Regions from separate parts of the Homo sapiens genome. Here regions 1 and 2 are each reported to be linked to region 3. The links are microRNA targets in miRTarBase. Many come from high-throughput screens and were not tested one by one. Region 3 holds a microRNA gene; each other region holds the end of a gene's coding sequence.

Region 1 (7,802 bases), not on the chromosome of region 3:
AGGTTCTGGTGGGAGGTGATTGGATCATGGTGATGGATTCATTATGAATGGTTTAGTGCCATCCCCTTGGTGATAATGAGTTCTCACTTGGTTAGTTTTTGTGAGATCTGGTTGTTTAAAAGAGCCCAGAACCTCCACCTGACTGTTTCTTGCTCTCTTTCTTGCCATGTGACATCACTGGCTCCCCCTTTGCCTTGTGCAATGATTATAACCTTCCTGAGGCCCTTATTGGAGGTAGATGCCAGAGCCATACTCGTACAGCCTGCACAACTGTGAGTCAATTAAACCTCTTTTCTTTATAAATTACCCAGTCCCAGGTACTTATAGCAATGCAAAAACTATCTAACACTCCTGGTTTCAAATGATTGGGAAGAAATGGGATTAGAGGTCTCTGAAGATGCCAGGGCTCTGGAGATTGCTGGGGGAAGGATAGCCCTGTCCCTGTCAGGGGCCGCCTCCTGTGTGGAGGGCCTTAGGGCTCTGGAGAGAGAACCCCTGTGTTCAAATTCTGCCTCTGCTACTTACCAAATATGGGACTTTGAGTATTTCACCTGGTCTGAATGGGCACCTACATCCTAGTCCTGGAAACAGCTCAAATAGGGACAGAGGAGGTGCTTAACAAAGGATTAAGCCTACAACCTGGATCTATTCCTTGCCTTGAAGACCAGTTGAGGGCCCAGGATGAGCCTCCTGTGGGTGCACTAGCTCTGCTTTAATTGCCTAGTTCTAAAATGAATCTTCCTTTGCATTGGAGAAAAAAACAACAGAGGCTACAGAAAGCCCCTGGGGTCTGTCTCAGCTGCTATTGCTCTGACTGTGGTCTGTGAACCCTGGGTAGGCAAGACATAGCTCCCACCTGTTCCTCTTTTCATCTCTTGCTGGTGAGGAGCAGGTGTTCTTTCCAAGCTTCTCCTATCTCTCTCCCCTCTTCTTACTTGTTCCAGTCTTTCTCCCTCCTCTTCCCTCTCCTCTTCTTTCTTCTTCCTTTGCCTTATCCTCTTCCCTGCTTTCCTCTCTCCCATTCTTTCCCCCTCCTCTGCTCTTTTCTCCTCTCTCTTTCTCTCCTCTCCCTTCCTCTTCCCTCTGCCTTCCTCTTCACTTCCCTTTCCTCCTACCCTTTCCCCTCCTTTCCCATCTTCTCTCCTCCTCTACCCCCTCATCCCTTCCTCTTCACCTCTCCCCTCTGTTTCCCTTCCTCTCCCTGCAACATTCTCTCCTCTCCTCCTTCCTCCTTTCTCTTCTTCCTCATTCTCCCCTCCTGTCCCTTCTGTAGCTCCCCTTATCCCTTGTGGCATCAGCATCTCCCAGCCTCAAAACTGGCAGTCACTGTTTCATCAGCTCTGGCCCCAGCCAAAACCTCCCTCCCTTCTCAGCCAGCAGCAGCTGCTGGACTCTTGAAGGGGGTAACAATTAGTCATTGGAGGGTGGCAGTGGTTGAGGGAGACAGAGCGTGCCAGCCTTTGCAGTCATTGCTCTGTCACCTCATGTACAACAGGCTTAACTCAACACGTGATCTTCCCTTTGGCACCCCCCTCTCCCTCTGCCACTGCTGAGCTGTGTTGTGTGTATTTGTCCTCCCTCGTCCCCACACCCACAACCATCTTTATGCCCTCACCTCCTCTGTGAGCTTTATGCAGCCCTGCCTAGTGTGGCAGCTCCTTAAAGCACCTCTCTTGTTCTTCCCTTCCTTCCTGTGACCACTCCCTATCCCTAATATGGGTCCCTCACTGCTTCTCCCCTGAAATACTTGATCCTGGGTTCCTCTCCCCACCTTCATCTGTCCTGTCAACAATGACTGGAGTGCATTCCTGGTTCATGTCCTCCTAGGGATGAAAAAGAGTGACATCTTTCCTCCCCACCACACTCCTAGAACAAAAGATAGGTTAACAAGAGAAAAGCATAACACATTTATTTAATCAAGCTTTTATGTGATATGGGAGACTTCAAAAATGAAGACCCCAAGACCCAGGGGAAACTGTTTTTATGCTTAGGTTTGATGAAGAGTGGACAGCCATGTACTCTTTTTGTATTGGACAAAAGGGGTATAATCCAGTAGTAATAGACTGAATGGGAAAACCCAGCAAGGCCTGTCTGTTCAGATTCTTCTTGGCCTCTCTGTTGTAGCATTTCTTCCTTCTGGGTATGATGCAGGACCCCTCTGCAATGAGGGCCTTAGGATCTAATATCAGATAAGGGTAGGTCAGAGAATTTCTTTTTGGCCACCTCCTAGACAGAAGGGGATGGGGAGGTCAGAGTAGTATTTCCAGGGTTCATGGCTTACTTTGGGGGAGAGGGGTTCCAGTTTTTATGACCCACCTAGGGTACAAGGAATTATGTTTCTATGACTTGCTTTGAGGGAGAAATGAGGGGTGAGAGATAGGAAGCAGGAAGTCAAAGAGACCATGGTTCTGAGGTTGCTTCTGAGGTCTTCCAATGTCCTTTAGTTCAAAGTACTCAGCACACCAAAGTGCTATACTTTGGGGTATCATTTTCTGAGCTGCAGAATCCCAGATACATCACTCTCCTCAGAAGCTCTGGCTCTCCTGGTGCACTGACTGAGACCAAACAAGTGTTCATGACCTACCCAAGCCTGAGAGAACAGCCCTCCAGATCCTGGTCCTCCTGCCTTCCACCATGGGCAAGAACCCCCACCCCACCTCTCCCCAACCCTCCTTGCCTTTTTCTGCTTCCCGCCTTTGCTTGTGCTGGTTCCTTCTCCACCTGTTCCCATCACCCATACCCTGTTCCCATCACCCACTGCCATTATCCAGGGCCTAAACATCTCCCCCATTATGAAGCTGCTCTAGAGAGGGTGACGTCGCTTCTCTTATAGGACTCGTTGGACACAGTCAGGGGCCCTAATACTGCATCAGCAGAAAGATGTGTGAGTGGTTCACATGACCTTTGACCACTGACTTTACTCACCTATGGAGGTGGACTTGGGCTTTTGCTTGAGAATGTGGGTGTGCATATGTGGGAAAATATGTTTAAAATGATCATGCTTTGGATGAACGAGGCTGGGTTTACCAGTGTATTTGCTAAGCACTTGCAGAGGACTCGACTGGGGAGCTTGAAATAATACATATTCCAGGGCCCTGTCCCTGACCTCAGAACCAGATTAGAGGAGCAGGGGAGGTGGCAGTAATCTGTGTTTTTAATAAGTCCTTCTGTTTGATCTTCACATTTGGAAATGACTACAGTAAGTGATCTCAGTATTAAAACTCTTAGAAAGCAAAGAGTTTTCATGAAGGAAATAATCACCTCATTATATATGTATTACAATGGATAAATATATGGGATTGGGGAGGAGAATCTGTATATAGGGAGAGAATTGACTGTTGTTTCAGGCACTGTACCACAGGGTCTTATTCATTCCTTACTACTTCCCATGCAGCAGGTTCTATAATCCTTACTTTACAGATGAGAAAGGGGAGGCTCAGAGAGGGGAAGTAACTGCTGCATAGTCACACAGCTGGAGAGTGACAAGGTCCATGTTCAAACCAAGGGCTGATGCCAAAGTCCAAGCTTGAACCACACTGCAATGCTGCCCATTTGTGAGCCTGAATTTTTTTTTTAACTTTCAAGGACAGGTTTTCTTTAACTTTCAAGAACAGGCCCCACTGGTTAATGGCTAACCCCAATGTCTCTCATGATACTCCCTGGAGGTAGGGTTCTGAGGTTCCAAGAGTGCTTCCCACTGGCCTGCCCTGTCCTCAGTATAAGCCCTAGATGGGTCTTAAAATTTAATCTTTTCTACTGTATTCCCGACTAGGCTTGTTGGTGCTGGAGTGAAGCATTCCTGCCATGGTTTGGTTCTGAAACAGGCTGAGGGAACAGAAATATGAGAGAGGCAACTTGACTTATCCCATCCACAGTGAGTGCTGGAATGAAAAGAAGGCCCTGGCCCAAAATAGATGCCCAGGCTTTTCAATGGGACCTAAAATTTTACTACTTTGAGTTCAGATGCATCTTCTTTGAAAAAGAATTATCAGTAGAATGAATACAGCCACCATGAGTCTTTCATACTATAGGTAAACTAATTCATTCAGTTACTTTTCATTTGTGGAAAAAATATACTGAGACTATTCCACTTGGAAAATGAGAGTTTTAAAGTATATTGTTGCCATGTATAATTGAAAAAGTGGCATGCACATGTTGGGAATGAGTTCATTGCTTCCAAAGCACACTGTGGATGTGGAACTCTTCTGGGTGAAGGGGATTCCATGGTTTCAGGCTGGGTGTCTTTGCTGGAGGACTTGTCAGAGCTTTAAAAATGCTAATTCTCATTGTGAATTTCTAGGAAGGGGATATAGTTCTCCAAATTTATTTGACCATAAACCTTTTCATGGAATCTTAACCCAGGATCAAAAATAAATACTAACCCCTTACCTGCGCAGAATACTTCACAGTGAGTCCCCAGTGGGCTTCAGACACAACCTCATTCAATAGGGTTTTCTTGAGGGACAGATGAGAGGTCATTTGAGCCTGTGGCGAGCAAGGGCAAGCCTGGCGAGAGTGATAGGAGTGGGGATGGGCTCTTGGGGAAGCTCTAGGAAGGTGGGGACAAAGGGCCCACTTCACTGGTCCCTCTACTTGGTTCCCTGTCTGCCCCAGGAGAGGAGGCCTGCACTTCCTCAGGAGGCTCCCCTTCCTCCCCAGCGCCTCTCACTGACTTGACCAAAAAGGCCATGCATGTGAGAGAACTCCGCCTCCTCCGTTCTCCCGGCTAACATGAGGCTCCAGCCAGGCACTTTTCTGGCTTTCTTGCTGCAGGAACATGGCTTGGTTGTTTGGGAGCACAGCTTGCCAGGAGGCCCATAGCATGATGGCTTGATCAAAGGGCTTGAGCCAAGGCTGGCCCTGGGCCACATGGCTGGATTGCAGCCTTTCTATCCATCCCCCTAATCCCATTTAGGATGTTCAGGATCAATGAAAAGATCTGATCATTCAAATCATACCAAAGTGTGCTAACACCATGTGCTACCCCTCTGGGGATAAACCTGCTTTACAAAGAGAATGCTTGCCTAATGGTGGGACAGAAGGATGAAGGACATGCCTTTTACCTGTGGGACCCCATGAATTTAGGACCCCGTGAATGATCCATCACAAATCCGTCTGCATTAACCACTCTGTCCTTCCAGGTGCACTATTCCATCTGCGTATCCAGCAGCAAAATACAATTCTGCTCAGAATAATGAACCTAATGTTCTGAAGGCACCAGAAGGTTGTGGAAGTATTGACCTATCTCTAGTTAGCATCTGCTCACCAGGACCCCTGAGACTGTGGAGGGGGTAACTCAGCAGAAGGACCAGGGCTAACAGGGACTGAATCCTTACCACATACCAGGGCCCGTTCCAAACACTTTGCATGTTTTAAATTGCTTAATCCTCACAATGACCCAGTGGAGGAGATGATAGTTTTGTCTCTTCTTCATATTATGATAGAGGAAAATGAGGACAGAGAGGCCAAATGACAGGCCCATGGTCAACCAGCTAAGAAGTGAAGGGGCAGGACTTGAATTCAGGCCTCCTGGCCCCAGAGTTTGCAGCACCTGGCATGTGGCAGTAGTTGAGAAGTTACACTGAGTCTGAGTAGACCTGTAGTTAGTGACCCCCTCCACAGCACAGGGCTGATGGACAGTGGGCTGGCTTGGGCCAAGAGCAGCTGGCACTGCAGATCTGTTGGAATAGCTCTGCCCAGGCTGCCCAGGGCAAGTTGCAGACTGGGAGGCATATGTATCCTAAAATAGAACTTTTGAGAAATAATGTGCATCCAAAGGAATGAGTCTCAGACGAGGATGTTCAAGAATCAGTAGCAGATGCTGTGCGGGCCACAGAATGTTTCTAGGTAAAATGCCCTCCTCCCCACCCCCCATGTCCCCCACAACCAACAAACAAGCTAAGAAAAAAGAAACAAAATAAAATAAATTGAAACAAATTAATAAACATGCAAAAACCACACAGACAGTCATCTCTTCTGTCTGTGGGTAAAACTGACAGCTCTAGAAATAAACGGAGATCCATATAAAGGGTTTCAAAATATGGGAGTAATTTTTGTTTTTCCATTTAATGCTAGGTTTCAAAGGAGGGGAATATGTCTATCACTGCTACATAGGCATTCTGTTTAAAACCCACCCAGATGCCTTAATGGGGCTCTGTCAAGAGTGGGAAGGTCCCCACAGCTGTTTCTCAAAGCCAGTAGACCACTCAGTGTGGGCAGTGGGGAGCTTGTGCTTGGCAGGCCTCCCACGTCGCCATCATTTCTTTTTGAACACTTGACGGCACACCTGGTCACCACAGGTCAGCTCCTGCAACGTCAGAAAGTGGGTGAGGGTCTAACAAGCCAGGCCTTTCTTCTGCCCAGCCCTCAGCCCCCTTGGTATCTGGGGGTGGGAGGTTGGAATAAAGAGGACACTTAGGTATTCTGGGCAAAGTGCATCTCACAGACCCAATCAGCGGGCATGCCCTGCAGGTAGCAGTAATTTGATTTTGACACTTGAATTGAGCTTGAACAACTATAAAAATGAAAAATGCAAAGAAATGACCCTCTTGGGCAGGATTTCTCCTACTCCCATGATTAAAGTAACATGACCTAATTTATAAAAGGCAGCGAAGCCATGAGGAAGGAAAGGACCTAGTGTAGAGAAGTGTTTGGAAGGTAGGGGCCTGAAAAGATGCTGGCCAGTGAGCTGCCCCTCCACCCTGTGGGCTTTCTGGCCTCTGGTGATTAGAACATTGGCTGGTGGTGGCGCAGGTACCCGCAGGGTGTGAGGTGCAGAAGGGCTTTCCCAGGCTTGCCTGTGCAGCCGACAAGGTCCCGCTTTTCATCCAGATAGAGGGAGCCCAGGCCTTATTTGACCCTCACTGATCCTCGAAGGAGGAGGGAAAAACATGAGTGTGGGAAGGACCACCACAATCATTGCAGTTGACTGTGAATCCATTGTCTAAGCCACAGAGAGCACTGGGGATTGTATTACAATTAGAAAAATCCACCATCCAAACCAGTGCAGGTAGGGAAAGCCATCAATGCAAAACACGATAAATGCCTCCCATATATCATTAGCTGACATTGCCTTCAAAATAAAGATCTCAGGTGAAGCAAGGCTGGCTGTGAAGGGCACTGTGGCAACCTGAATACTGACATTGGAGCCAGGTACCTGCCTCATTCCAAAGGTGAGTGAATTAATGAATGAAGAGCCATTCACTGAATGAGCCATTCATTTACAAATGAGCGAAAAAGGATGAAGGAGTGAGAGATTTTTCACCATTTGAATGCTGAACCCATGAAGTGCCTTGAAGATTGAAGAATAAAAAATTAAGCTGTCTCAACAGGTATAAGATATTTAAGGATATCAGTTATTGTTCCTACTGCTCTGTTCTAGTACCAAATTACCTTAAAATATTTTGGGGTCAGAAGGACATACCTCATGGAGAGAGGTCAATACCTGTGGCAGTTCCCAGGCAGAGTGGGTCCTGTCTCCTCCCCACCCCACTCTCTCTCCCAGGCTCCCATCATTATGAGAAGGCCCTGTCCCACCCTCCTCCAGGGCATCTAAATTCTGTGGCTCACATTTCTCCCCAGCTGGTCTTTAGCAGGTTCCCTGTATTTCTCCTTGGATCTCTGCTTCCTAACTCAGCATTTTGAACTTTCTTTTGAATTGCAGCTGTTCACAGAAACAGCCATATAGATTTCTTCCTGGAGTCCCCTGAGCCAGATGGGAATGGCTTTCTGACTATATGACCACATGCATTTGGCTGGAGCTCGGGGTAGGAGTGCAGGGCCATTTTTCTTGTCAAAACACC
Region 2 (7,802 bases), not on the chromosome of region 3:
CCCAAACAGTGATGTTCTTTTATTTAAAGCACATGATCAGAAGAATTCGAGATCTCATACTTACACTGCTAGGGTTGTGGTGTGCAGTGATCTTCTTAATGCCTTGATGCCCCTGTAACTTTGTTCCAGAGAAAACAGAATTTACCAGACTGCTCAGAGCAAATGCTGAATTGACTTGGAGGGTGGATTTTTTACTTATTTCTTATACCTTTGGAGCAGCTTCATGAGCTCCAGCTACCTCTGTATTTAAAGATTACTGACTTGTATGATCTGACTCATTATTTCTGAGATTGAATACCTTCCTTTTATTTAGGCAGTGGAGTAATTTTACTGAAATTGTCACATAGAAAGTACATACGGTGGCTCATACCACTCATGAGTGCTGGGTGGTAATCCCAGCACTTTGGGAGGCTGATATGAAAGGATTGCTTGAGCCCAGGAGTGAGACCAGCCTGGGCAACATAGTGAGACCACGTTGCTCCAAAAAAGAAAAAAAACATTAGCTGGGCGTGGTGCTGCACACCTGCTGTCCCAACTACTCAGGAGGCTGAGGCAGAAGGATTGCTTGAGCCCAGGAGTTTGAGGCTGCAATGAGCTATGATCACGCCACTGCACTCCAGCCTAGGTGACAGAGTGAGACCCTGTCTCAAAAAAACAGGACATTTTGAACCAAAACAAAGTTATTTCCTCCTTTAATCCTGTTGGTCATTTGGAATTGGACCTCCTGATCACTTCACATAGTAGAGTATATTTAAATGAGGATGGTCAGATAGGAAAGGAAGGGAAATTTCAGTTGGGGTTTCTTGAAAATTATTGCTGATTTCTGATCTTTCTGCTTTTCCTAGGAAGGAATGTAATATTGGCTAGCTTGTGCCCTCAAGTGTTTGGAATGTATCTAGTAAAGCTTGCTGTGGCCATGGTGCTGGCTGGTGGGATTCAAAGGACTGATGCTACAGGAACACGGGTCAGAGGTTAGTACCTATTTAGAAATTTTGAGTAATATTGACACATGGATGGAAGCTAGAACTTTTTCTTTCCCAAATAAAAACTGCTCGTTGGGTTTTATTTTCCAATTGTAATCTTATAAAACTGACAGTTGTCTGAATATCTTATACTTAGTCTAGCATCTGTATATCAGAAGCTACTTTCTAGAGTTCCAGAAAGACTGAAAGAAGTTACATTTTTCTATGGCATATACTTTTGCTATAGCCTATAAGGATGCCACAAAATAAAATCTTTGTTTCTATTACTGTGTTTTTTGTTGGATCCCCGGTCTGTTTTCAAAAGGAAAAAGATTAGAAATAGTGTATTTTAATGTCTCCAGTCAGCGTCTCTCCATCTGTGGCTGTCACTGTGTTTCTCTTAGACTGCTGCTTTCAGTCATCTGCCTGCTGATTCTCCTTCTGCTGGTAGATAGCAAATGTGCCATCTGCCATGGGGTGCTGCTGCAGGTCACACCTTCAAGAAAAGATTACTCTTAAGTGTATAATTATGTCCAGATGGCAGAAAGCTCTTTTGCAGCTAACACACTTAACCAGAGTCTGGCATACGGGTTATTACGGCCCTGTACGTGGGCCATAATAACCAAAAATTAAACCAAAAGACTAAAAGGGCATTGTTATAAATCAGGCTGTTAGTAGGGACTCGAAAACCATATAGTACAGTATAGAATAGTAAGTATAAGGCGTCCTTATATGTTTTGATCACCTACTGTTTTGCAAGGCACTCTGCCAAATGTTGAGCTTAAATAGGGGTTTCCTATTAATGTATTTAGGAAACACTTGAGAATTGCTGAAGAAACTTGGTCAGTGAAATCATATGTACCATAGGATATGCACGTTATTTATGTTACATTTGCAAAATGAGTACTTATTTTAAGATACATATTTCACTAAGTTACTAAAATTTTCATAAATGAAAAGGTCTTCACTTAACTGTTAGAATCATAATTTGATATTTGTAAAGTACTTGTAAAATCCCTAATACTTCTAAGTGCTTAAATAAAAATAGAATAAAATACTTATATGACTTGTATGCAAGGATTTAATCATAGTAGTTTGATATTTAAAAATAGAGTAAATCAGAAACTTTATAAGCCAAAAATTTTTTGTTTGTTTTTGTAGACATGGAGTCTTGCCCAGGCTGGTCTCACATTTCCGGGCTCAAGTGACCCTCCTGCCTTGGCCTCCCAAATGCTGGGATTACAAGTGTGAGCCACCGCACCTGGCCCCAGATATTTTTTAAAATGTTAAACATAGGCCTGAACATCTGGAAATAGCACATAATTTATTAATAGAATTTAGATTCTATGTCACATTGAGTAATCAATTAAGGACTGTTTATGACAGTTAACTTTCTGAAGATTTTCTAGTTAAATCCTTTCTCAAACGACCCTATGTAAAAGTACACAGTAAAAACACTATGTAATATTTTGTTGGCATTCCAAATGGACCCTTTTATAGAAATTTAAAACTTCATGTATTTGCTTTTTCCTAGGAGAATCTCATCTTTTATTGGTTGGGGATCCTGGCACAGGGAAATCTCAGTTCCTCAAATATGCAGCAAAGATTACACCAAGATCTGTGCTGACCACAGGAATTGGATCTACTAGTGCAGGTATTGTATGTGACAATTTCAAGTAATTTAACATTACTTCAGAAGTTAACACAATGGTTTTTTCTAATGAAAAACTACCTATAATAGGATAAATTTCAAGCTAATTTTTGAGTTACCACTAAAAATGGAAGGAAATATGCAATGTTATTTTGGTAGCTCTAAGAAAATATCTTGCAAGCTCCACCTTCACTTTGCATCTTAGTTTTGAACAATCCTATTCAATTTTCTCATTCTCTAGTGATTACCTTCATACTTTTATGCAGGAAAAAGTCCGTATCATCTGGCATTTTATCAAGACTCAGCAACTGGAATGTTAAACTAAAGAGGGGGATATTTCACTTTACCAAGTAGATAGATGGTATAGAGCTTAAGGCATTTTCATGCTCATAAATCTGATAGGCAACAGTAGCTCCTACTGAAATTTCTTAGGTAGGGAATGTTTATTAATATTTGGAAAATATACTTCCATCATTGCAATGTGGAGCTTCATTCATAAGTTGTAATGATTCTTTAGCAAGTACACTTAAAAGCCTTTGCAGGTAGAATGTCAAGATTTGATTATAAATAAAGTGACCCAGGGAATTTAGAAAAAAATTATTTTAAAAAATATGTTTGATGCTATTTTGTATTTTTACAGTTTTGATTGGGTAATGTTTCTGTTCTTCTGAAAACAGACCCTTGGCTTCACACATTTTAAAAATGTTTGCTACTTGTTAAGGGAGTCAGATTAACTTCCATTGGGCTAATGAATGCTCAAATTTCTAATGAGAAACTAACACTTTAAAATTTATCATACAACAGAAAATGGCCAATTAATGGTCCTGTATAAGTGGAAAACTGTTAAGGAGGTCTCAGGTTTTGAAATATAACTCAACAGTATATTAACCATTGACAAGAATGGATTTTTGGAATTGAGAAGGGTAGACAAACTTCAGGATACTAGGCAAGAATATATAAAGAATATTTCCCATGCGTTTTAAATCCGTATGACCCAGTGTTCTAGAGTTCTGTATAAAATGATACCAACAACAAATAAAGATGCTTCCCAAGTAATTATGTGGAATGTTTCCTAAGTAATTATGTAGAGTGTCAAGAAATGAGTCCAAGCCATCTAAGTGGATGACTGGTAATTTCAGAGTATTTGGGCAGTTTGAAAGTGAATTGCTGCTGATTCACTGGATTAGTGAATTAGTATAAAAGTATATTAGCACATTTCCTCCTTTTTAATGCAAAGATCATAATCCAAATATGAGAGAACAAGTATAGGGAATATAAATTTTACGGTTATAGAATAGTTATTGCTACTTCTGGTCTACCCAAAGGGCCACGCTAGCCTTTCTTCAGATTGTGTACTGCAACCCATTAGAGTCATAAAAGTCAATTCAGTGGGTCAAAACCAGCACTTTCAAAGTAAAATACAATTAAAAAAAAACCAAAATACTGCATAGTAAAGGTGCACTAAGGATGTGTTTTCATGAAATTTTTTAACATAAATATAAACTTGTTATGGAGTCTTTTTTTTTTTTTTTTTTTGAGATAGAGTCTAGTGCTGTCGCCCAGGCTGGAGTGCAGTGATGCAATCTCAGCTCACTGCAACCTCTGCTTCCTGGGTTCAAGTGATTCTCCTGCCTCAGCCTCCTGAGTAACTGGGATTACAGATGTGCACCACCGCACCTGGCTAATTTTTGTATTTTTAGTAGAGACAGGGTTTCACCATGTTGGCCAGGCTGGTCTTGAACTCCTGACCTCAAATGATCCACCCGCCTCAGCCTCCCCAAGTGCTGGGATTACAGGCGTGAGCCACTGCGCCCGGCCCTAAGTTTTTTATACCATGGATTATGGTAAAAAGTTTTGATAACTGCTGCCATAGACATTCTTGGGAAAGCTAGAAACCCCAAATCCTAAAATTAGAGGGTATAGTTATATGGGAGCCTAAAGTTGTATAAGGTTATGAATGGGCAAATAAATGCATGCATACTTCTTCAGACCTCTGGAATGTTTTCTCAGCCCAAATAATACCCTTAATGCCTCCATCTTAGTGGCATAAGTCATTGGTTCATGTTTATATTCTTAGGACACAGCTATTTACTATGAGCAAAAGGGTGGAAAATAGTTCTTCAGATACAGTATTGGCAAATGACGCTAGACCGGGTGGAAAAAAAACTTATGTGCTACAGTTTCTTACGTTTCTAATGTTTGAAGTCTAAATCTATTTTCAGTCATTAAAAAAATTCTTAGAGTGATAAAATTTAAGATAACAAAAGGTAATGGTTCGCATGTCCCAAGCTTAAGTGAAAATTGGTTGTCCATTTACAACTTGATACAAAAACCTAACCCTTTGATGTCACTACAAATAGATTGTTATAATTAGTCAGAATAAAAACTCAGCAGTAAATGGCTTTATTTGGTGATTTGGCTGTATATGCTTTATTTCTAATAAGCACATATGTTGTTCCTATTATATTAACCACTGAGCTCTTTGTTGGAAAGTAATGCTTTTATTTTCATTTTAATATTTTAACATTTTTCTTTTAATTGCAATTAGACAAATGAGATTTTCTTTATATAGTTTTAACAGTCAGAAGTATTTTACTTTTAAAATCTATGAACTAGTTAATGGACAATATTTTAATAATCTGGTATATTAAATTCAAAGTTTAACATCTGGCAAAACTTTGCTTCACAAATTCACTTTTTTAGAATGATAGGAAATATATACAACTCAGAATCCATGTTTAGACAAATGCCCTTTTCCTTTCCTCAACATAAAAGCTTTAAAAAGTGCAGTATAAAAGTTTTAGATATGAAGGCACTGCATAACCTGCATCATATGGCTGTCTTGCTTAGCTGCAAGAATAATGAAAATATTCTACCTCAATTTTATGGAGCATAAGAAAATTTTTTGAGGAAGGACTTAACTCTCAAAGAAAAAGAAACCTTTTACCCCATTTAGTTAATGAATTCCTTTCCAAGATTGCTTTTCAAAGATTTGTTGGAAAAGCTATCTAGAGTATGTCAACCACAAATATGCCTGATCTCATTCTGCATGAGTGTCAGAGGAAATGGGGAAGAGTACTACAGGTGTGAAAATATATATATTTCCAAAATAGTAACGTATCTATTATAATAAAGCTAAATATACCTTTCTAAATCCATGGTTTTTATATAAATACTGCCAATAACATGATCTATTAAAAGAATTTTTAAAGGTCATGGTATTTTTAGAAATCAAATGAACCAATTTGAGCCATTGTAATCCCCTATTCTTAAACACAGGGAGTTTGTATTTTCTCCCGATATTGTATTTGGTCTTGAATTCACTGGACAATAATGATGTATGATTCAAGAAATGCTCTGATATTCTAAACTCTGTTATAAGAACAAAAACCATAGCCAGGGGACCTTATTAACAATTAGCCATATTTGTTCTTCTCTTACCAAACAAACCAAATGCTGTCCAACATCTCATGAACTATAATAGTAGCCATAAGAGGCTTCACGGTGGCTTGGAAAATTGGATCCTAAAGTTCTTGGTAGCATATAGTTGATTTCAAATCCTCTTTTTAAGGACATGCCAAAAAAGAATGGAAATCTGCCCCTTAAATTAAAATGATACCATATGTCTTCACAGGAAGAAACATTTTAGTTGAAGTAAACTTTGTTCTTTCAAAGGCCAGTAAAATAGTGGTCCAAAGACTGTCTGGGAGGCCAAGACATCTTTACAACCTGGTCTAATGATTCCTGTTTCTTTATAAGTGCTTTCATTACATATAAAGGAGAAGAAAATAATATATATGCTTTAATCAGATTAGTTTCAGAACAAATAAAATAACACATTAGAGAAAAAAATTACTTAAAAATAGTTGTATTTATATTCCACAATTTGTTCAAATACTGGTTTTCTTATAAACTTTCTACAGGATGTTTTTAAACAAATTCTTCACATTGTGTTTTGACTATGTACTTACGGAATTTCAGGGAAATAGTTCTGTGTATTTTTAATAGCTTAATTTGTACTAAAGGGATGGTAGGTGGTCACATGCAGTCCATGTGGGATTCTAACATGACATTTAGTGAGTTTTCTGATGTGGACCATCCCTTTGATGCTGAAGGTAATGCATCTGTTGAAAGAAGTGACTGTAGATTTGGATTACTGCTCTCTGCATCTTCCAGTTTTTCTGTGTTATCTTCCCAATTAATGTGGAATCTTGTGACCCTGGGATTAGATGCCAAAATATTCCTTTGAAGCTAGAGGAAAAAGGAAACATACAAATGGTAAACACTAAGAAAGTTAAATCACCATATACAAATAGAAGCTTAATAAAATGGTTCATGTTAGTACTCCTAAAGGGCTAAGTTCATATACAAAGGTATAATTCAAGTTAAGTACCTTAAATATAACTAATAAGATGTAACGACTAGGGCTGTAGCAAAGAAGTTATTTTAGATTAACAGAAACAAGATACGGAGAATCTGAGGGGATTCATCTGGCTTTTTAACTATTTAACTCCTATACTTCTGTTTTCTAAAAGAAAGAATCTCCTCATTTTTGAAAATGAATGCTTCAGAAGATGCTTTATTTAACAAGCTACTATGTTGTTTAGATTGGTATGTTTTCAAAGGAAAATGAAAAATTGTCAAATACAACTTATTATTAATGGTTTCCTACACCTTTTAAAGATGGCTCATTCTTAGAAACAGTCCTGTTTCTTTTGTGCTATATAAGGTGCTTCAGGGATAACAAATTGGATCAATGGAAGGTACAACAAGGGTGAAAAATAGTCCGGCCTTATTATCAGAAAGAACATGAGAACATTCTATTCTATTGTCATGTAATTTTTCTTGCATGGTTCAACTTCATTTACTCTGCACTCTCACAAAATCACCAGTTACCAAACTGTTATAGTTCCCAGTGAAAAATCAGAAAATACTAAGTATCTTTAAGAATGCTGAATCCTAGATTTCAGCTTCTCACTCAGAATTTAAGCTGTTTTCAGTACCAGAAATATTTAAGACTGTTAGTTTAACTTCTAAGAATAGCAGATAAAGCGTATAGGTGTTTTGAGATAACCGTATTCATAGGAAAAACAAACATAAAACTTTCATAATTTTGGGAAGAGTTACACACAAAAATATCATCATTGAATAATTAGTACAACAAAAATGCATTTGTTTGTCCTAAAGGT
Region 3 (7,802 bases):
TAAAGACAAGGTCTGACTCTATCACCCAGGCTGGAGTGCAGTGGCACAATCTTGACAGCCTCCACCTCCCGGGCTCAAGCCATCCATCCTCCCACCTCAGCCTCCCAAGCAGCTGGGGCTGCAGGCGCAAATCACCATGCCTGGCTAATTTTTGTATTTGTTGTAGAGAAGGGGTCTCACCATGTTGTGCGGATGGTCTCCAACTTGCGAGCTCAAGCAATCCACCTGTCCTGGCCTCCCAAAGTGCTGGAATTAACAGGCGTGAGCCACCTCACCTGGCCAATTGCCCACTCTTAATGAGTTCCCTCCCATTTCCAGTGCCACCTGACACCCCCCACCCCCTGACACACACACACACACTCTTGTTTTCTGACTTCCTGCCTCTGCAAGACAAGAAGCCTGTTCTTTTTCTGGAAGATCACACCAACTCCTGTTTAGCCCTCAGACATAGTTGCCAGGGAGCTAAGCAACTGAGCAGGAATTATGGTCAGGGACACAGCACAAATACTCCAGCCCATTTTTCTGACAACCAGACTAATATCCCTTACATTACCGAAAGTTCTGGGTTCCTCACTACAGAGATTAGCTGTCCAAAATTAAAAAAAACAAAACAAAACAGAATTATCCGCCCAGAGACCTAGTTACTGGGTGTGGAAAGTGTGTGTGGGGAGGGGTGGGAGGTGGTTCTCCCTTGCTTCAGTTGGCTTCTGCCTTGTTTTAAGGAATCTTCTCCTTTAGCAAAAGGAGGAGACTTTGGAATGGATTGATTACACAGACTGTGGTATCTGACCCATTGAATTTTAGAAAAAATTCTGATTTAAAGTTTCAGAAATTGCACAGAAAATTTCAGATTTCTGGCTTCTCTGGAAATGATAGATTTGCAGTTCAGGGCTCCCATACCCTCATGGTAATCATAGGCTGCCCCCTTTAGCACGGTCCCAAGAGGTGAAAACGACTTGTACACCCCAGCTGCTTGGGATTATTGAGGACGAAAGTAGAGAGAAGGGGAGAAATATTGGGGAGTGAATTTTGAGCCAAGGCTTAAAATTAAAAGTGGGGGAGGTAGAGCCCAGCAGTAGTAGGTGGAGGAGAAGGGCTCCTGGCCGGGGGTGAGGATTCCTCCTGAGAACCATAGTGTCCAAGCTAGAGGGAAACATGGGGTCCACTAGTTCTCGACAAGTGGAACAGGTCACTTCCCATCATGCCGTCCAGGAGCAAGAGAGACTCTTAGGGGGTTGTGCCCCTCCCCACCCCCAATACGCAGATTCTGTGTACCATTTACATCCAGAACATTGGTTAAAACCTGAATTCTGGCCCTGCGTGGTGGCTCATGCCTGTAATCCCAGCACTTTGGGAGGCGGAGGCGGGCAGATCACCTGAGGTTGGGAATTTGAGGCCAGCCAGACCAACAGAGAGAAACTCTGTCTCTACTAAAAATACAAAATTAGCCAACCATGGTGGCGCATGCCTGTAATCCCAGCTACTTGGAAGGCTGAAGCAGGAGAATTGCTTGAACCTGGGAGGCAAAGGTTGCGGTAAGCCGAGATCACGCTATTGCACTCCAACCTGGGCAACGAGAGCGAAACTGTCTCAAAAAAAAAAAAAAAAAAAAGTAGCTGGGCGTGGTGGCATGCACCTGTAATCCTAGCTACTTGGTAGGCTGAGGCAGGAGAATTGCTTGAACCCAGGAGGCGGAGGTTGCAGTGAGCCGAAATTGTGCCACTGCACTCCAGCCTGGGTGACAGAGTGAGACTCCATCTCAAAAAACCAACTTGAATTCTGGGGCCAACTCCAGATGTACTGAGTCAGAATCACTGGGACCCAGGAATCTGCATTTTGGCAAATTGCCCCCATCATTCCCAAGCAGGGATTTGAAAAGCCACTGCCTTAGGGGTTGAATGAAAGCCTCGGGTGAGGGTGTGTTATCTGAAAAACCCCTAGTGTGACTCTCTTGCAACCCACCAGGGAGGGGAGCAAGCTCCCCAGAACAATCACTGCTTAAACATTTTCAATTTATAGCAAAGGAAAATTAGGTCTGAAGGATAGAAATAGGAATAGCATTTATTTATTTACTTACTTATTTGAGACGGAGTCTCGCTCTGTCACCCAGGCTGGAGTGCAGTGGTACAGTCTCCGCTCTCTGCGACCTCCGCCTCCTGAGTTCGAGCGATCCGCCTGCCTCAGCCTCCAGAGTAGCTGGGATTACAGGTGTGCATCACCACTCCCAGCTAATTTTTGCATTTTCAGTAGAGACAGGGTTTCGCCATGTTGGCCAGGCTGGTCTTGAACTCCTGATCTCAAGTGATTCGCCCACCTCAGCCTCCCAAAGTGTTGGGATTACAGGTGTGAGCCACTGCACCCGGCCAGAAGAGCATTTATTGAGTAATAACTGTATACCAGACATTGTAATAAGCAAGAGCTTTAATGCGGCCTAATTTAGGGCCAGGTGCGATTGCTCATGCCTATAATCCCAGCACTTTGGGAGGCTAAGGCATGAGGATCAATTGAGCCCAGGAGTTCAGAACCAGCCTGGGAAACATAGTGAGACCCCCTCTCTACAAATAATTTAAAAGTTAGCTGGGTGTGGTGGCATGCACCTGTGGTCCCAGCTACTCGGGAGGCTCAGGTGGGAGGATCACTTGAGCCCAGGAGTTTTGAGGCTGCAGTAAGCTGTGATTGTGCCACTGTATTCCAGCCTGGGAGACAGAGCTAGACCCTGTCTCCAAAAAAAAAGAAAAAAAAACAAACTACAAAAATTGGCTGGGGGTGGTGGCACACACCTGTAGTCCTAACTACTCAGGAGGCTGAGACAGGAGAATTGCTTGAACCTGGGAGGCGGACGTTGCAGTGAGCCGAGATCATGCTACTGCACTTCAGCCTGGGCAACAGAGCAAGACTCCATCTCAGAAGAAAAAAACAAATAAAATTATATATATATAACACATATATATTTTATATATATTAGGCAATAAATATATATAGCTTAAACCTTACAACTTCATGTTTAATCTCACAACTTCATGAGGTAGGTACCATTATTATTATTATTATTTGAGACGGAGTGTCACTCAGCCACCCAGGCTGGAGTTCAGTGGCACGATCACGGCTCACTGCACCTCCGTCTCCTGGGTTCAAGTGATTCTAGTGCCTCAGCCTCCCAAGCAGCTGGAATTACTGGCAAGCACCACCATGGCTGGCTAATTTTTTGTGTTATTAGTAGAGACGGAGTCTGACCATATTGGCCAGGCTGGATTATTATTAAGACAGGGTCTACCTCTGTCACCAGGTGCAGGATCATGGCTCACTGCAGCCTCGACCTCTTCGGCTCAAGTGACCCTCCCGCTTCAGCCTCCTGAGTAGCTTAGCTGAGACTACAGGTGCCACCTATCACACTGGCTTTTTTTTTTTTAAGACATGGGGTCTCACTATGTTGCCCAGGCTGGTCTCGAATTTCTGGGCTCAAGCAGTCCTCCAGCCTCTGCCCCGCCCCGCAAAATGGTGTGATTACAGGCATGAGCCATGTCTCCCAGCCCTAAATAATGATTTTTTTTTTTTGAGACAGGGTCTCACTCTGTCATCCAGGCTGGAGTACAGTGGTGCAATCACAGCTCACTGCAGCCTCAACCTCCCAGCCTCAAGCAATCCTCCCACCTCAACTTCCCAAGTAGCTGGGACTACAGGTGTGCACAACTAATTTTCTTTCTTTTCTTTCCTTTCTTCTTTCCTTTCTTTCTTTTTTGTAGAGATGGGAGTCGCATTGTATTGCCCAGGCTGGTCTCGAACTCCTGGGCTCAAGAGATCCTCCCACCTATGCCTCCCAAAGTGCTGGGATTACAGGCGTGAGCCACTGTGCCCTGCCCTAAATGATTTCTAAGATGCTAAACAACCCTGACGTACGGTCAATCCTCTGGTTCTTTCCCCTCTGACCACATTCTGACCTCTTCTCAGAATATCCCAACCATTTCTGTTTTCCACCTCTGATTCCACCTTGGATTCCTAGAGCTCTTAGGAGAGAGAACCCCCTTAGCAAGGAACCTCTCAACAGCCCCAGGCCCAGAGTGAACCCGGGAGGCGGAGGTTGCAGTGAGCCGAGATAGTGCCACTGCACTCCAGCCTGGGCGACAGAGCGAGACTGTCTCAGAAGAAAAAAAATAAAAGTATATGTATGTATAACATATATATAATATAGATTATATATATATTAGACAATAAATATATATAGCCTAAAGCTCAAGGTGTACCCCCCACATCCCGTTCATTCTGCCTAAGTGCACAGAGCTGGGGTCCCCTCCCAACACCACCCCTTCACAAACATGTAGTAGCCTAACAGAATACTTAAGATCAAAATAACATTCTGCTGTTTTTGGATTTTTACTTACATGATCCTATTTAATCCTCACAGTGCACCTGCCGAGGAGAAGAGATTATTATCCCGTTTTACAGAAAGCTCAGAAACAGAATATGGCCCCTTAACCACCAGTTGCTGATAATGCCAGGTTGGACCTCTGGCTTCCCAGAGCACTACACCCAGCAGTCCACTGCAGTCCACCCACTGACATCCCCTGGAACCCAGAAGCAAGTGCGTTTTAATCTGCAAGACCTCGGGGCCCTGGGGAGGTGGGATGGCTAGCATGTGGGTGTTGATTAACTGGGAAACCGGCACGAGTGTCTTAGAAGTACTTCACAAAGGAGCCGGGTGGGGAGTGAAGGAGGGGGTGGGGCGTGAGACGTTAAGAAAAATTGGATTAACGTGTCGTGGGCTGGGTTGCATTAACCATTCCCAACACTATCTCTGGGGAAGTCTCACACCTGATATTCAATAGACATCCCCTGTAGTGGGTGATGTTGGCAGAGGCAGGCGACATATACAATAATATTTTTAGAGATCCTTGTTCACACTTCATCCGCACCAGAGGACTTCAGCCCCTGTGGTATTCACTCCTCTTTAGGGCTAATTTGAGAAACTGTCTCAGATTGGAATCCAGCACCTAGAGATAGGCTGAGGTGAGCAGGCTGATCTGTTCAGACGCTTCGCGGACCAGGTTAACTTTACAAGCTCATTGGCTTCCAGAGGGTTGGGGACCCTTCTTATCCTCCTAGCTCAGAGGGAAAGATTCAAGAGTTTACTCTTCGCCCAATGCCCACTTCAGCTAGGGGTTCCTGGAAGAACGGGGCTGTGGAGTATCTCAGAAAACTTTCCTCCCTCTACTGTCTTCAGGCCCCAGGAGACAAACCTCCTTCCAAGCCTCCTGGTCCCAGTGGCTTCCCTCTCACCGAAATCGAAAGAACCCGAGTCCCAGCCCGACCCCTTCTCTCGCCGAGCCCTGGCTGGGATACCTTGGCCGGGAGGACAGGACGGCCTCAGGCTGGCCGCCAGACGCACTCCGCAGGACGCGCGCGCTCGAGCCTCGGTGGACTCAGCCGCCGGCCCCGGGAGGCCGCCTCCCTGCGCAGCACCTCCTGCCACCCGCGCGGGCACGTGGGATCTTGACTCGCCGCCCCCGCCTCCTTCTGCTCCGCGTCCCCAGCCCGCGGCTCGGGGCGCGGCGTGGCGCGGCGCGTGGGCGTGCTGCGGGGCGACCATGGCTGTAGACTGTTACCTCCAGTTCCCACAGTAACAATCGAAAGCCACGGTTGCCCTGGAGACGCGGGGGCGGGGCGCGCGGACGGCGCCGGCGCGGGGCGGGCTGACGTCAGGGCCGCGGGGGGGCGGGCGGGGCGGCGGGGGCTGAGGAGCGCGCGTGGGCCACCGCCCCTCGCAGCCCCTAGGGACCCGGACGGGGCGGCCCGATGGCGGCGCCTGCGTTGATCAGCACCGCGGACAGCGGCGGCGCAGGCAGCGGGCCGGGGGCGGGGCCCTGAGGGACGGGGACTGGGGGTCCCCGGGCGCGGCGGCGGCGGCCGGGGCCGCGGTCCTGGGGCGGGGCCAGGCGTCGGTGGCCGTGACTGGAGACTGTTACTGAGGGCGGCCCGGGCAGTAAGCAGTCTAGAGCCAAGGTGCCGGCGCGCTGTCCGGGCGGGGTGCCCCGGTCGCCCCGGCTGCCCCGGCTGGGGGCTCTGCTGCTCCGCCTCCCCTGCGTCTCCCGCCCTGCCCCGCCCGGCGCTCGCGACCAGGCACGCGGCCCCTGACGTCAGAGGGCCGTGACGTCAAAGATGTCCCAGAGGGGGCACTTCCGGCGGGGGCGTGGGGGCGGGGCGGGACCTGGGAGGCCCCGCCCCCCCGGTCCTGAGAGGACAGCTCCGCTCGCAGAGGCGGGAAGCCGTGGGCGCCGCGGGACCCGCTGGACGGGACCTGCCGGGAAGGGGCGCCCGACGCCATGCGGGGCGGGGGTCCCAGGAGGGCCGGGGAAGCGGGGGTGGGCGTCCGTCTCTCGCCTGCACCCCCGCTCAGCCGGCCCGGGCAGCGAGGCTGAGTCACCGCGCCGCAGGGAGGGAGAGGAGGGGGCGCGTCTCCTGGGGCGCCAGCACCTTCGCCTCACTTTCCTGGGAGAATGGCGCAGGAGCCCCAAGAAAGCCGGGGGGGGGTCTCCGAGGTCGGTCCTCCACTCGATGCTCCTCCGAAGTAGCTGCGTGTCCATCGGGCGCCGGCAGGTGCTGCGCGGGCTCGTGTCGTCTCTGGCCCCGGCTCCGCAGCCGCGAGGGGACCCCGGTGCCCCCCGTCCGCCCCCATCCCCACCCCGGAGGGGCCGCCCCACCCGCCGCCTGCCCGTCCCCTCCTCGTCCTCCCGTCCGTGTCCGCACATCTGTCCCTCCGCGGCTGGTCCGTCCCGCTTACCTGGCGGGCCGCGTCGCCACTGCCCGGTCGCCTCCCGCAGCCTGGCCGGCGCGGCGGCTTTTATAGGCGCGCGTAGTACTCGTGCGGCGGCTCATTCATGCGGCCGCGGCTCCTACACACTGACGCGCTGCCGACGTCAGCGGGGAATTTAGGAAATGGGAAAAGGGGCTATTTATAGTGGCGAGGCGGGGGGTGGGGACCGAGGCGACCGGGAGGGGAGGAGGGGGCGCGGAAGCGGCGGCGGGGTAGGGGGAGCCGCGCCCCTGCCCAGCCGACAAGGGGTTAACTTTCCGGAACCGCGGGCCTGGGGCCGGGGAGGCGGCGCGGAGGGGCGCGGCGGGCCCTTCGAGCTTATTCACGCTCTCCTTCCGGAGCCCCGCGGCTCCTGGGGGTCTTCACGTGGCAGCCCCTTCCCCCTCCTCAGTTCCTGGACCTGACGTTTCTGCCGTCACACCCCGCAAGGCCACTGCGGTGTCGCCACCCTCTCGTCCTGCAGGGTGGGCAGGAGAGGAAGCTGGACTCCCGTGGGGGCCTGGGGCGCAGCGAGGGCTGTGGCGTCGGGGGCCGGGAGAAGAAGAGTAGGGGAGCCCAAAGTAGCCCAGGAGTCTTTAGCGGAGGAACCTGGGCCTGGGAGGGAAGGCCCAGCGGGGATTCAGGTACCACCCAGGAGCTGGAGACCCGAGGGACGGCAGAGAAGTTGGGGAAGGTGGGCCAACCTCCCCAGAAATGATGAGCAACGGGATCCTCTATGAGGGAGCTGGGGGAACGCGCCAGAGGTAGGGGTGAGAGGAATGGGCAGCCTCAGCAAGGGAGAGAGGAAAGGCTGTCAGTGCCACGCTCCAGAGCCTGGCATCCAGGACCCACCTTCGGACCATTTGTGGCACGATGGACGCTCCCAGAGCTCACGTTAGGGTAATAGAGAGTGAAGGAGACCAGCAGCTTGGCCAAGAGGGGCCCCCAGGGGATGAGGAGGACGGTTTCCTGGAGAAGTTAATGTTCCCGGAGACCAGAATTGGCAGGGAGAGCC

The links. The annotated mature microRNA hsa-miR-212-3p reads UAACAGUCUCCAGUCACGGCC and lies in region 3 at 5,939-5,959, opposite strand. An mRNA with a match to its seed (bases 2 to 7 or 8) in the 3' UTR can be bound and repressed. Matches are read on the target gene's strand: a 7mer-m8 pairs with bases 2 to 8, a 7mer-A1 pairs with bases 2 to 7 and ends in A, and an 8mer does both.
Region 1: miRTarBase lists RBP2 as a target of hsa-miR-212-3p. The part of its 3' UTR that is shown has no 7-base or 8-base seed match.
Region 2: miRTarBase lists ASF1A as a target of hsa-miR-212-3p. Seed matches in the 3' UTR shown: 8mer at 5,189-5,196.

The regions. Positions count from the first base shown.
Region 1 is chr3:139,446,860-139,454,661 of GRCh38, forward strand. RBP2 (retinol binding protein 2) reads right to left here. Exons shown (of 4, transcript NM_004164.3): 4 at 6,025-6,307. The coding sequence ends at 6,257. The region is part of intron 3 of COPB2-DT (COPB2 divergent transcript); the gene reads left to right. Among named protein-coding and RNA genes, the nearest start is that of RBP2, 26 kb to the right of the region's middle.
Region 2 is chr6:118,906,464-118,914,265 of GRCh38, reverse strand. ASF1A (anti-silencing function 1A histone chaperone) reads right to left here. Exons shown (of 4, transcript NM_014034.3): 4 at 5,095-6,864. The coding sequence ends at 6,652. MCM9 (minichromosome maintenance 9 homologous recombination repair factor) reads left to right here. Exons shown (of 14, transcript NM_017696.3): 7 at 846-971; 8 at 2,497-2,616. Among named protein-coding and RNA genes, the nearest start is that of ASF1A, 16 kb to the right of the region's middle.
Region 3 is chr17:2,044,352-2,052,153 of GRCh38, forward strand. MIR212 (microRNA 212) reads right to left here and starts at 6,029; the gene lies at 5,920-6,029. MIR132 (microRNA 132) reads right to left here and starts at 5,657; the gene lies at 5,557-5,657. LOC124903896 (a long non-coding RNA gene) reads right to left here and starts at 5,598. Exons shown (of 2, transcript XR_007065576.1): 1 at 4,810-5,598; 2 at 4,356-4,407. RefSeq lists silencers at 5,353-6,152, 6,163-6,312 and an enhancer at 6,858-7,753.